Homo sapiens: one gene and its partner. The protein of the gene in region 2 interacts with the protein of the main gene of each other region in a pairwise test. Each region holds a gene or a part of one and is shown on either strand. Other genes may lie near its edges. The genes, in order: SPRY4 and TESK1.

The links.
Region 1: the proteins of TESK1 (region 2) and SPRY4 interact in binary tests that used the Homo sapiens proteins (3 or more experiments, as listed by UniProt).

Annotation. Positions count from the first base shown.
Region 1 is NC_000005.10:142,309,773-142,315,120, forward strand, and holds the end of SPRY4 (protein sprouty homolog 4), read right to left. Parts: coding exon of another isoform or gene 5,337-5,348; coding exon 4,437-5,336; 3' UTR 658-4,436; downstream 1-657. UniProt on the Homo sapiens protein: Suppresses the insulin receptor and EGFR-transduced MAPK signaling pathway, but does not inhibit MAPK activation by a constitutively active mutant Ras. Probably impairs the formation of GTP-Ras.
Region 2 is NC_000009.12:35,601,167-35,608,421, reverse strand, and holds the start of TESK1 (dual specificity testis-specific protein kinase 1), read right to left. Parts: upstream 3,161-7,255; 5' UTR 2,803-3,160; coding exon 2,584-2,802; intron 2,439-2,583; coding exon 2,317-2,438; intron 2,186-2,316; coding exon 2,137-2,185; intron 1,586-2,136; coding exon 1,439-1,585; intron 1,096-1,438; coding exon 1,013-1,095; intron 841-1,012; coding exon 750-840; intron 495-749; coding exon 411-494; intron 329-410; exon of another isoform or gene 263-328; coding exon 173-262; intron 28-172; coding exon 1-27. UniProt on the Homo sapiens protein: Dual specificity protein kinase activity catalyzing autophosphorylation and phosphorylation of exogenous substrates on both serine/threonine and tyrosine residues.

The DNA of each region.
Region 1 (5,348 bases), on a different chromosome or scaffold from region 2:
GTGCCTATAATCCCAGCTACTCAGTAGGCCGAAACAGGAGAATCGCTTGAACACAGGAGGTGGAGGTTGCAGTGAGTGAGATCGCTCCACTGCACTCCAGCCTGGGATGCTGTCTCAAACAAAACAAAACAAAAAACAGAAGGAAGGTACATTAGAAGGTCATGAAATGGATGGAAGGCTTTCGAGGCTAAAAGGACTAGTTTTGTGCAATATGCACCAATCCTGTGAAAATACGGAAATGACCAAGGGCTTTTCTATTTAGTTCCTTGAAGCATGTATGTTGTGTGTTCATGTGTGTGAAAACCTGCTTTGGGGGCAATCGGGACATAAAGGGAGAGGAATGGACAGGTCAGATGACACTTTTCCCCCTCTACCTCTTCCCAGTTTTGGAGCTTTGCTGTCCATCTGCAGCACACTCCAGTTTAGGGGACAGCTTTCCCAGGAAGGAGGCTCTAGCAGCTCCTTGCAGTATTCCGCTTCATAATGAAGAGCAGCTTTCCTCCGATGGTTCTACGGTCGTCCTAGAGCTGGGAGAAGGGATTGCCCAGCCCAGGAAGCCCTATCTTCTCTTCCCCTTTCAGTGGCTGCTTATTCTCAAACTTGAGGCCTTGCTGGCTGAAGAGGTCAGGGAAGTAAACACACAAACACACCAGAAACGGCAGTCCCGTGTATATTTAACAATATATATTTATATATATTTTCTAAATCAGTACATTCAGTTTTTAACTTGTTTTTTTCTTCACAAACAGAAGAACTCTTACAATAGTAGACTTTCTAAAATAAATACTATTAAAATAGAGCTTCAAAATAAATATTCTATACAAAGAAAACCTGTGGCAACTTTGTGGTGGGGTGGAAATGGGCTACAGTGAGGGGGAAATGAAGTTGGGATGTGGCGGGGTGGGAGCCTCGAGCTTTTCTGTTTGTAACATGAAACCAAGCTGTGGGACAGTAAGAAGAGAAAGCAAGGCAAGACACTGCACGCAGTTACCCACAGCAGAAAATGGCAACGCAAGATTCATCATCGACTGTCACAGTAAGCAGAGGGGGCACAAAAATGCTTGTCAAAGGCATGAACCAGAAGGCTAGTGAGGCTCGCAGGATGCCCTAGTGAATCGTACAGTGTAGAGCTGTGCTGCCCACGCCCGCCAGACACTTCCTGGGACAGCACAGAAGGAGAACAGGATGCTTCAAGGTGACAGTCATCCGGGTTCTGGTGCAGATCAACTTTCCACGTGTGCCATCTTGGACAAGTCATTATCTAGCTGGGCCTCACTCGAGGTATGATGGCGACTGACAGGCTCCACAAGGCTGAAAAGAACTAGCCATGTCTTCCATCTCAGCTCTGAGGGGGTGCGTACCAAAGGACCAAAGGAAGGGATTGGTCTTCACCCCCTTCCTGCTCAGGAAAGCCTTAGTTGTGCCCAATCTTTTCTCTGGGAGGGCTTTGCTACCCAAGACCCAGTTCCCAGGGTGCTCGCGGAAGCGCTGTCCTTCATTAACACGGGCAGCCAGAGCCCCCTAGAAGCGTCCTGGATCCCAGGTGCCCCTCGAGTTAAGACAGAACCCCCACCTACCCCAGGTTTACCAGGGGCGGGAACTAACCAGCACTTTTCAAAAAAGGTCAAGCCGAGGCATCGTCCAGCCAAACAGGCCATTGGTGACAGGAAACACACTCAGCCAGAAGCAGCTACACATGTGTGTTGTGTCTCTGAGTGCTGGGTCCCTCAGTGGCTCTCGACTGGCCCCAGAGCCGGGGAGGGTCCACAGGCAAGCCAGTTTATCCTTCTGTTTGTTGTTGTTGTTGTTGTTGTTGTTGTTGTTTTAATTTTTGCCAAGAAGCTGAGAAAAACAATGCTGAGGGATTGCTACACAACCAAGCTGGGAGAACCAAGGATGGTTCCTTCGCTCCTTTCCCATGACCACTGAGCACACGAGGCACTGAGGTGGACTCTTAGAGAGCACTCTGCAGACATCCATCAAGCAGGTTGAAAGCAAACCAAGAAGAACAAGCTAGAACAGGGGCAGGGGGAAAAAAGGAAAAAGCAAACCAAAACCCAGAAAAATCCGTGTTTACAAGTATGTACACAAAAAGTCAGGGTTCAGGAGGCCGTTTGCCAGGAAATAGGGTCTTTGTCGGTAGACAGTCAGTGTGGGGTAGGGGTGTGTGTGTGTGTGTGTGTGTGTGTATACACAGCTTATGTAAATCGACTCTCCACAGAACGGGTGTGTAGACCACCAAGATCACCAAAGTGCAACTTGCCACTGGGTCAAGTTTCCCATGGAGACAATTTGAGGGAGGGGCCCTGGGAAGTTCTGAGGCCTCGCAGAAAGCGTGCAGATGTGCACTATCAATTTTGGGGCCCCCTCATCTGAGGAAAACCATCTCCAGTCCCTTCAGTACACTTCTGATACATTCAATTCATATAAGTGGTTGGCTGAATGTGTGTTTTTTTCTACCACTCCTTCTGAAATGTTCAAGAACATCCATACATCCGTCACAACTGTGGCAAGGGTAGCTACACGAATCAGCCTTGGAAAATGCAGATGCAATATTTCACATTCGCCTTTTACAAGCTAGCAAATGTTACATAAATAAAGCCGAAAATAATATGACCCTCCCTTCCTCCAATCAATAAATACCTATGGTTACAATCAACTTACTCTAAATCATAAGATGTTACTACTAGTCTTCAAGAAGGAAAAAATAAGTCCTTGAGAAGCATTAGGTGCCTATCATAGCTACCTACCTCGCTGCCTCCTTCCCGGAGGCACCTCTGTTCCTATACAGAACAAACTGGAAATGCTACGGACGCTCTGCCTCATGCACTTCCAGTTTCACCTGGGGTAGCTCTTCTGACTCAGGCCATGCCCTCTCATTAGAGGGGAAAACAAAATACCACACAAAGCAAGAACCCCACACAAAAGCTGGGGAGGAAGGACCAGATACACTACAGCTTTTGCATGCAACAAGTACCTACCCACTGGACGTGCTGCACCTTCTGAGTCCTTTAGCACCTTGAGAGAAAGAGTTGCTACGTCTTTGAGGGCTGTCGGGAGAGGGTGGTGTGGCTGTGCACAGAAGCAGGGCTCAAACCCAGTGGCCCCTGGAAAAACCTTTCCCCTACCCTCTCCCCAGCTCTTCCAAGCTCTTCCGACTCCCCTGCTGGGGCTTCCTAACACTAAAATAGACTCTTTTTTCATCATCTCTCTATTTACATTAAAGATACAGACACATCACTATACACAAAAGGCTATGACAGTGAGCAGCAGAATCAGAAGAGAAGAAACCCAAACCCAGCCTGGCTCAGCGGTCATTCTGCCAATGGGAGGTGCTGCCTCTCTTCTTTGCTGTTAAAATCCTCTTGTTGATAGGGAGGGAAATTGTGTTCCTTGAGGTTGCTCGCCCCCAGATTTTGAAATCAGCCCTTCCTGGGGGTGGCCAAAAGGAAACAAGTTGTTTTATTATTATTTTTTAAAACACCGTTAGCATCCGGTTTAATTATTCTATAAAAACATAATGACTGGATCCAGAGACCACAGCCTCAGACTCATTGGCAAAATGATATTTGGTCTCGCATTTGCCGCCCTGGCTTCCTCTACCCATATAAAGTTTCTGGAAGGGATCTGAGTAGAGAGAACCCAGGACACGTAGTGGGCAGGCGAGTCTGTGACTCAGTAAGAACCGAAGGACGGTGTGGTGAGCAGAACACCCCCGAGAGTTAGTTGATGCAGTTGGAAGGGAGAAGTGCACTGAGCAGTGGCTCCTAAATCCATCCTGTGGCTCCGGGGAGGCAGAAGGAGGAACGAGGCTTGGACTCACTGGCCGTCCTCTGTTCTCAGTGGCTCCCAAGTATATACAATAGGAACTGCTAGGGTGTTCTACACCTTCCCCAAGACATCAGGGACAAAGTGGGGTGGAGTGAGATGGGGAAGGAGAAGAAGGTATAGAAGACTCCAAGGGTCTTCTTTAAAGGTACCCTGGTACTCAGTTAACAATTCCTCCCAGGCAGCTAGCTCCTGTGAGAGCCAAAGACAATGGAAAAGAGGAAGGGGGGGGGGGCGGAGGGAGGGAGGGAGAAGGAGGGGCTGGGAAGGCATTCAAGCAGCTGCAGTTTCCGGATATGTGTCCACATCTGTGTTCTGTCTTCTGAAAAAGAAAAATTTCCCCCCAAACCACACCCTGCCCCTGCATTGTCTGTTTGACACAAAGTTTCAGGACCCTGAAAAAAAGCCCCAAAGTGCTTCTTCATCACCTTGGGGAATACAGGGTACGTGGTGGTGGTCTCTGTATTTTCCGAAGCTGGGGGTAGGGAGTGGGCAGACTAGCAAGGTCAGCCTCAGGAGGCTAAAACCTCTGACCTTGCTGCAGTCTTCTTAGATGTCAGAAGAGAACCAGGTTTCCAGGCAGAGCACTGGGGCTTCGACACAAACTGTCAGAAAGGCTTGTCGGGCCTGCTGGTCTTGGCATCCCCGCTGGCTGCTTTGCAGATGACGCTGTTCGTGTGCTTGCAGCGGCAACCAGGGCGGCGCAGACGGTCGTAGCCACGCTGGGCCAGCTTCACGCAGCCGGTGGCAGGCAGGTAGCAGAGCAGGCAGGGCAGCACCACGGAGAGAGCACCCATGAAGGACCAGCGGGCGCAGCAGTTGGAGCGGGAGCAGGAGCAGGGGTGGTCAGCGCAGGAGCCCTCATCGTCCTCATTCGTGCAGTGGTAGAAGATGCCCTGCACCAAACACATGCACGTGCCATAGTTGACCAGAGTCTGGGCTGAGCACAGGCACTCCTGGTTGCAGACCCAGCAGGAAGGCAACGTCCGGGGGGATGCACACTCCTTGCATTTACACTTCCCACAGGCCTCGCACAGCAAGAAGTGCTTGTCCAGCTCGGGTGGGACCGCCGGGCCCTTGAGGTCCAGCGGCTGGCAGTGGACCACCTTGGGCTGGATGCGCACAGCCCTTGGTGAGGCCTGGTCAGCCACGGGTGGTGGTGCCATGTGGTCTAAGAGCCGTTGGTCAGAGGATGTGCTGCTGCTGCTGCTCACAGAGCTGGGGCGCCCGCTGAAGGAGATCCAATGGTGGGTGACATCCTGGTCACAGCGGGCGGGCGTCGGGGCCAGCTCTGGGGCCCCGCCCCGGGTCCGCTTTGGGCCGGTGGTCAGGGCCAGGCTAGGGTTGTCTATGTAGTCATTCTCCACATGGCTGGTCTTCACCTGGTCAATGGGTAGGATGGTGAGTGGGTGCTGGAGCCGGCTGTGGGACATCCGGCTGTCAAGAAGGGGCTGGACCATGACTGAGTTGGGAGTCAAGGGGGCGCTCTGTGGGATCGGGGGCTCCATGGGGCTGGAGGT
Region 2 (7,255 bases):
GAAGGGGGCACGGGTGCTGGGTTCCAGCTGATGGGTAGAGACAGGAACGGCTTCACTCAGTGCTCCGAAAGAGGGTCTCTGAGTTTCCTCCCATCACCTGGGTCCCACAGGGCAGCCATGGCAGCTTACGGATGGGGGCAGGGTGGGGCAGGAAGGAGTGTGAGGCTCTTACGTTGCAGCAGTGGATGGCCAGGAGCAAGAAAGGCAGTGGGCAGTCATCCCCCACCAGAGTTCGGAAAGCAGGCACATCCAGGCCAAAGTCCTGTGGGGACAGAAGGAGGGACCTCCAAGTCAGCTTTTCTTGGGTTCTCCTTCTGCTCCCCAGTCAGAACCTCAACCTCTAGGGAATCCTCCTTGGTTATGAGCCAGCTAGTCTGGAATTCTTTCTTTGCAAACCTAGAAACATTCACCTCAGTGCGTGGTAGGTAGTCAGGGTCTGCAGGTACTCGGGCGATGAGCTCACAGAGGACAATCCCGAAGGCAAAGACATCAGCCTGGGGGTCAGAGATAATAGTGTCGGGGAAGAATTAACAGTTTTCATTTCAGAATTTTGACAGAATATAGCAGAATTTGGTTGAGGGTGGGGGATCTTGACAGTTTTCATGTGTTAGAAGGGTGCCTGTGAGGGGCAAAGGGATCTTGGGGACTCCTGAAGATCTGGTAGGGTTGTTTTGGGGATGGATGGGGCTTTATGAGAATACCTCAAGGGTCTCGGAAGGCCTTGGGGATCTGAAGGGTTGATGTCTCACCTTCTCATCATACAGCTCACCCCGTAACACCTCTGGAGCCATCCAGTATGGGGAGCCCACCACGGCCAATGGCTCCTTCCTTGCCCCCTCCCTGCAGGGGCAGGGGCAGAGTGGTCAGAAGCATCCTATTCAGGCATCCCCCCCAGGCAAAAGGGGATGAGGTGAACTCCCTCCGTTCCCCAAGGGAAACATCCCTGGGGCTCTGGGGACATCAGATAGGGGCACTCTGGGAGATTTGGGGGGAACAGGGACATTCATCTCACCTATACACAGGAATCTTTTCGGCCAGCCCGAAGTCACCCACGACAGCGGTGAAGCCTCGATCTTCCCGTCGGACTAGACAGTTCTGACACACACACACATAGTATCCCCACGCACTCATCACCTTCTGCTGTCTGGCCTCCCAATGTATAACCCAAAGCCCTGTCACTCCAGCATAACTCCAACCCTCTCTGCTCTCCCAGTTTTTCAAGGCACTTCAATATTGCAACATCATCCAACACTCCAAACACAGGGTGCTACTCAGTCCCTCCGAGCACTCCCCTCACCCTGGTCCCCCAATATTCTCCAATGCCTTGCCACTCCAACATCCTAATATATCTGTTATCCATATTCCAACATCCACAGGCCAGTTACAACCTAATAGCCTCAAACCCTCTTTCATGTCTCCACCCACCCTGCTAGCCTACCTTGGATGTGAGGTCGCGGTGAAATACACCTTTGGAGTGCAGGTACCGCAGGCCTCGGGCAATGTCCAGGGCCAGGTGGAGCCTGACCGGCCAGGACAGGGGTTCAGGGGAGCTGAGCAGCTGTTCCAATGTCCCCCCATTCATATACTGGTGCATAGGAGGAGAATGGGAATAGATGTCAGACTTCAGTCTGTATTCTAGGTCCCCCACTTACACGCTAGGGGACACTCCCGAGGATCACAGAGGTCATAGGGGTAAGACTGTGCTGTAGGACCCCCCCCATCCATGTTCTAGGATTGCCCCGTTCAACTCAATAGCCATTAGCCATGTGCAACAATTTAAATAATTTAAAAAATTTTTTAATCAAGTTGACCCACAAAAAATAATCTAAACAATGAAAATAATTTAAATTTAACCACATGTGGCTAGTGGCTACTGTATTGGACAGCACAGATAGAGAACATTTCCGTCACTGAAGAAAATTCTATTGGACAGCACTGTTCTAGGGGATACAGAGAATAAGACCAGTTGAGGCCTTTTATATGTGGTTTGCCTAAAGGAAAGTTCAGGAAAGCCTCCCCTGAGAGGAGATCCTGTTGCCTCTCACTAGTCCTCCGTAGATCCACCAGGCCTGTTGACTCCCTTTATCCTTGGGGGTGAAGGGGGGTGGGGATCCCTCCTTCCTGGCCTATCCTCACCTCTGTAAGAGCGTGCAGCTGTCCCTGGTGCACACAGACTCCCATGAACCTGCAAGAGGATGGGGAAGATAGAAGGATAGGCTATTAAAGGCCTCAGCTCCTCCTCAGTTCCACTTTTCCCGCGGGATCTTTCCCTTTCTCTCCCGCCCAGCAAGCTGCCCAGAGACTGGGGCCGCTCACCTTAGGATGTTGGGGTGCCTGAGCCGGTTCATCAGCTGCACTTCCCGTAGTGTGTTGCCCCGGTTACTGGGGAGCTTGTTCATCTTCAGCACCATGACTTGCCCTGACTGTCGGTGCCGAACCTGGGGGCAGGAGCAGCCGGCGAGGGCCGGGCAGGTCGGGCGGGTCGCCGGAGTCTGGACCCTCTTCCCCGCACTCCCGGCCCCCTAGTTTCAGCCTCTGGTTGAAGGCTCGGTCCCGCCCCTCTGCCCTCTCGGCCGGTCCTACCTTGTAGACCTCAGAGAAGAAGCCGGCCCCGATCTTCTCCGCGCAGTGAAAATCGTCCACACGCGCCAGGCTAGACACGGCGCTGCGGAGAGCCCGGTAGGAGGAGGGGCGGCCCCGGCCCGGGCCTCCGCCCGTGCCCCCCGGCCCCGGGGGCCCCTCCCCCGGCACCTCTCCAGGCCCGGGCCCAGGGCCCCGCAGTGGGGGCCGTTCCCCGGCCATGGCCGGGCCCCCAGCCCGGGCCTGCCTCACATGGCAGGGTCCCCAGGGCCCGGGCAGGCCGCGCTTGCCATGGGCGCGGGCCCAGCCCGATCCCGGGCGCCCGGACTCCGGCTCCCGCCCTGAGAATGGAAGATCCGCCGAAGATCCTGGACCCGCCCCCGCCGCGCCGGCTGGCTGGGCCCGGGTGGACGCCGCGCCGCTCCGCTCCGCGCAGGGCCTGGGCTTGGGCCTGGACCGGGCGGTGGCGGTGACGGTGGCGGCAGCGCTCCGGGGCGCCGGCGGGCTGGCTTGCCGCGGGCGGAGGCGGGCGGGCGGGCGGGCGGCGGCTGCTCCGCTTAGCCGCCGGGGATCAGGCTCCGCGGCCTGCCGGGGGCGGGGCTGGGCCGGGCCTCCGCTTAACTCCTTCCAGCCCGGCCTCCCGGCAGCGGCCACGCCCCCTCAGGTGCGCACCCCCGCCTCCCCGCTTTCCGGCCGCGATGCCCTGGGCCGCCCGGGTCAAATAAGCTCCGGCCTGAGCTTGAATAACGGGAGGGAATTAAGGGCTGATGGTGCGCATGCGAAGCTTAGCTGCCCAGGGAGTCCCCTCTCCTCCCTGGGTTACTGTCCGTTGAGGGTCGGGCTCAGAAACCTGCCGGATTCCTGGGCTCCAGGGACCAACGGGGCAGAAAGGTAGGCCCCTCAGGCCCAGCCGCAATCAGAGGTAGCCTAGCAACCTGTCCACCTTCCTGGCCTGCGCCCCGGCCCAGCCTGCCCATTTCCCAGGTCTCTTCGACTCCGACACCTTGAACCTCTGGCCTCCCTAACACCTTCTACCTTCACGGGAGGTTGTGATACCCCGGGGCTATAGGAAGCCTTTGGCCGGCCCATACCCAGCTTAGCCCCGACTCCTCCTCACTTCATCCTGCCGCCTCCCAATAAAGAAGAGAGTCCAGGTCCTCCGCCCTGTGACCACCCAGCCGGGACCTCCCTCTTACTACTTTGCCCAAAAGACTCTAAGAGAGAAGCCTCCACCTGCAGGGAAGCCCGTCCTTCCGCAAGATCCCACCCCCCTCAAAGAACGCTGTCCCTCGGAGACCCCTCCCTTCCTCAGTGAGACACCTCCCTTTCGGGGGCACTTTTCCCCAGTGTGGCACTGCCACCGTCAGTGTGTCAGAACCCCTCAGTGCTGCACCCCCTTGCTCTGTGTTCCTCCCACGCAGTGAGACCCCACCTCCGAGGAAATCCACTAGTCATTGTGACCCCTCCTCTCAAGGTGACTCCTCCCCTCAGTGTGACCCAGCCCTCCTCAGTGTGAGGGTTCCGCCCTCCACGTAGGAACACGGTCTGCCCCCTAAGGCCGGAGGAGGGGCTGCAACTGGCCTCTTTAAGTCGGCGCGGTGCCTGGGTGCGCACGCAGTCTCAGGACTCCGTGCACTCGCCGTACCAGACGCTTCCGGTTCTGCCGCTGGTTCCTCCTCCGGCCTCGGCGAAATAGCCAATCATCGCTAGGGTTGGGTGGTGACACGCGATCCCGGCGGTCCACTCCGGGGCAAACGGTTTAAAAGGGCGTCGTTGAGCCGCCTGCCACCTAGCGGCGGAACGGTGGGCGGAGGGAGAGAAAGCTGCCGTCTCGAGTGCGGAGGCAGGCTGAGAGCTCCTCGAGGAAGCGAGGCTGAGTCCTGCAGGAATTCTCAAGTACTGTATTGATATTTCTGTAGTAAGCTTAAAAGAGAATTAATACAAGCACAGTCCGTATCGCGTGGGGTTACCGTCTTCCAATGGAGTCTGGTTACACGTTTATGAGACTTGGAGCCAAGAAATACTACTCGCTTGTCGAGGGCTACTGAGAAAAGAATAAAGACGGTCATAAATGATACATGATGCCTTAGAGTCAAGAGAAGGCCAGATGCTGTCTTGGTGCGCTGTACAAGGGAAGGTATTGCACAAGTTTGGAGCGAGAGGAATGGGAGACATTCGCAATCCTTCCACAGCCGGTGGAGGCAGGCCAACCTCACAGAATTGCACGGGGCACGTGCATCCTGTTCTTTTTTCTGGAGGCGTTTGGTCTTCAGCACACGCTCATTCATCACATTAATGTTAACATCTACAACTAATTTGTGAATTTGCTTTTTATTGTATGACATCTGTAAACACTAGGAATTTATGCCTCATTTTGTTTAATATCATAGATCTTTTAACCGACACTGGGTTCTGGCCCTTTATCACGTTTGAGAATTACTGTAGTAGTTGGTGATGGTAATGCCAAGCCAAAGAGCCAGGTGCCTATTTTTTGTAAGATGATTGCGGTGGTTGTATGGAGGCCGGGAGACTGATTAGGAAGGAGGCTGTGACTGTGGTTCAATCAGGAAAGGATGAGACCAGCCTGGCCAACGTAGTGAAACCCCGTCTCTACTAAAAATACAAAAAAATTAGCCTGATGTGGCGAGCGCCTGTAATTCCAGCTACTCTGGAATCTGAGGCAGGTGAATCGCTTGAACCCGGGAGGCGGAGGTTGCAGTGAGCCAAGATCGCGCCATTACACTCCTGTCTAGGCGACAAGAGCGGGACTCTGTCTCAAAAAAACCTTTTGTTGTTGTTTGTATGGTGGAAAATGTCTTAACACACACACACAGAATAGAAAAATGAATGTTTATTTACCTTGGATTAGTAAGACCATTTTGTTGGAAACCCATAGTGCAAAATTGGCTTTCCTTTGCCTCAGTTGTACTGTTGCCATATTTGACCTGGCCCAGGTGAAAGTACCTACTTTCATTTACCCTTCTATGTCAGTGATTCTCCAATGAGCAATTCATGGCCAATCTTGTTTCATCTATACCCGTGCCCTCTTCCCCACTCCATATTTGTGTATATTTCTGACATATCATTTCATCCTGTAAATGTTTCAGTACGTTATCTCTAAATGATAAGGATTCTTCTTTAAAACCAAATCACAGTATTGTCACACCAAAAAAAAACAATAGTTCCTTCATGTCATCAAGCATCCAGTTGTTTACATTTCCCTCACTGTCTTACGTTTGATTTTTAAAAATTGTTTATTTGAATCAAAATCTAAATTAGGTCTGTACTTTGCAGGTGATATGTCTGTCTGTCTGTCTCTCTTTTTGTGAGACAGGGTCTGGCTCTATCACCCAGGATGGAGTGCAGTGGGTTGATCTCGGCTCACAGCAACCTCCACCCCCGAGGCTCAAGCAATCCTGCCTCAGCCTTCTGAGTGGCTGGGACTACTGAGGTGTGGGTACCACCACACCTGTCTAATTTTTGTATTTTTGTAGAGATGGGGTTTGCCACGTTGCCCAGGCTGGTCTCAACTCCTGGGCTCAAGCATTCCATTCGCCTTGGCCTCCCAAAGTGCTGGGATTATAGGTGTGAGCCACCACACCCAGCCATATGTTTCTTAAGTCTTTGCAGATCTATGCTTATTCTCCATCTTTTTTCTTACTATTTTTTAAAACTGGTTCATTTGTCCTGTAGAGTTTCTTAGAGTCTTGATTTCTGTGGTAATTTAGCATGTTCCTCCATCCTCTGTATTTGATATAAATTGGTAACTTAATCAAATTTAGATTTCTTTTGGCAAAACTAATTTGTAGATGGTTTTAGCACTTCTATCAGGAGGTATACAGGAGGTATACAGTGGTGGTCTTTTTGTGATTTTAATAACTGATATTTGTTTCTCAACCGTGGCACTATTGACATTTTGGGCTGGAAAATTCTTTATTGTAGGGGCTGTCCTGTGTATTGTAGGATGCTTAGCAGCATCTCTGGCCTCTACCTAATGGATGCCAGTAGCACCTCCTCCTGACTGTAACAATAAAAAAATGTGTCTAGACATTGCCATTTGTCCTCTGGGGGACAAAATTGACCCTGAATAAGAACCACTGGTCTAGGTTCATTAATAGAGGAGTTAAAGCTGGGCATGGTGGCACGCGACTATAGTCCCAACTACATGGGAAGTTGAGCCGAGAGGGTTGCTTGAGCCCAGGAGTTCGAGTCCAGCCTGGGCATCATAGCAAGACCCTGTCTCAAAATAAATAAAAAGTTAGAAAATAATATTATCATTCCTTCTTTGAATGAATTCCTATAGAAGTATTAGGTAGAATAATTCTATAAGGAGAAACTTTTCCACATTAACTATTTGTTACACAGAGATACATTTCCTAGGAAAGGCAGAATAAATACTTGATTGTTTCTCACTTATTTTACCAGCTTTCAAAGTAATGAGTTGGTTCCCCAGCATCTTCCAAAGTTGACCGATGAGGTTTTTTTTAAAGTACCATTATGAACTCATAATTTAACACATATGTGATATACTCAATTATTGCTAGTTATCTTTTTTTTCTTTTTGAGACGGGTCTCACTCTTTTTCAGGCTGGAGTGCAGTGGCACAAAGCTCACTGCAACCTTGACCTCCCGGGCTCAAGTGATTCTCTCATCTCAGCCTCCCAAGTAACTGGGA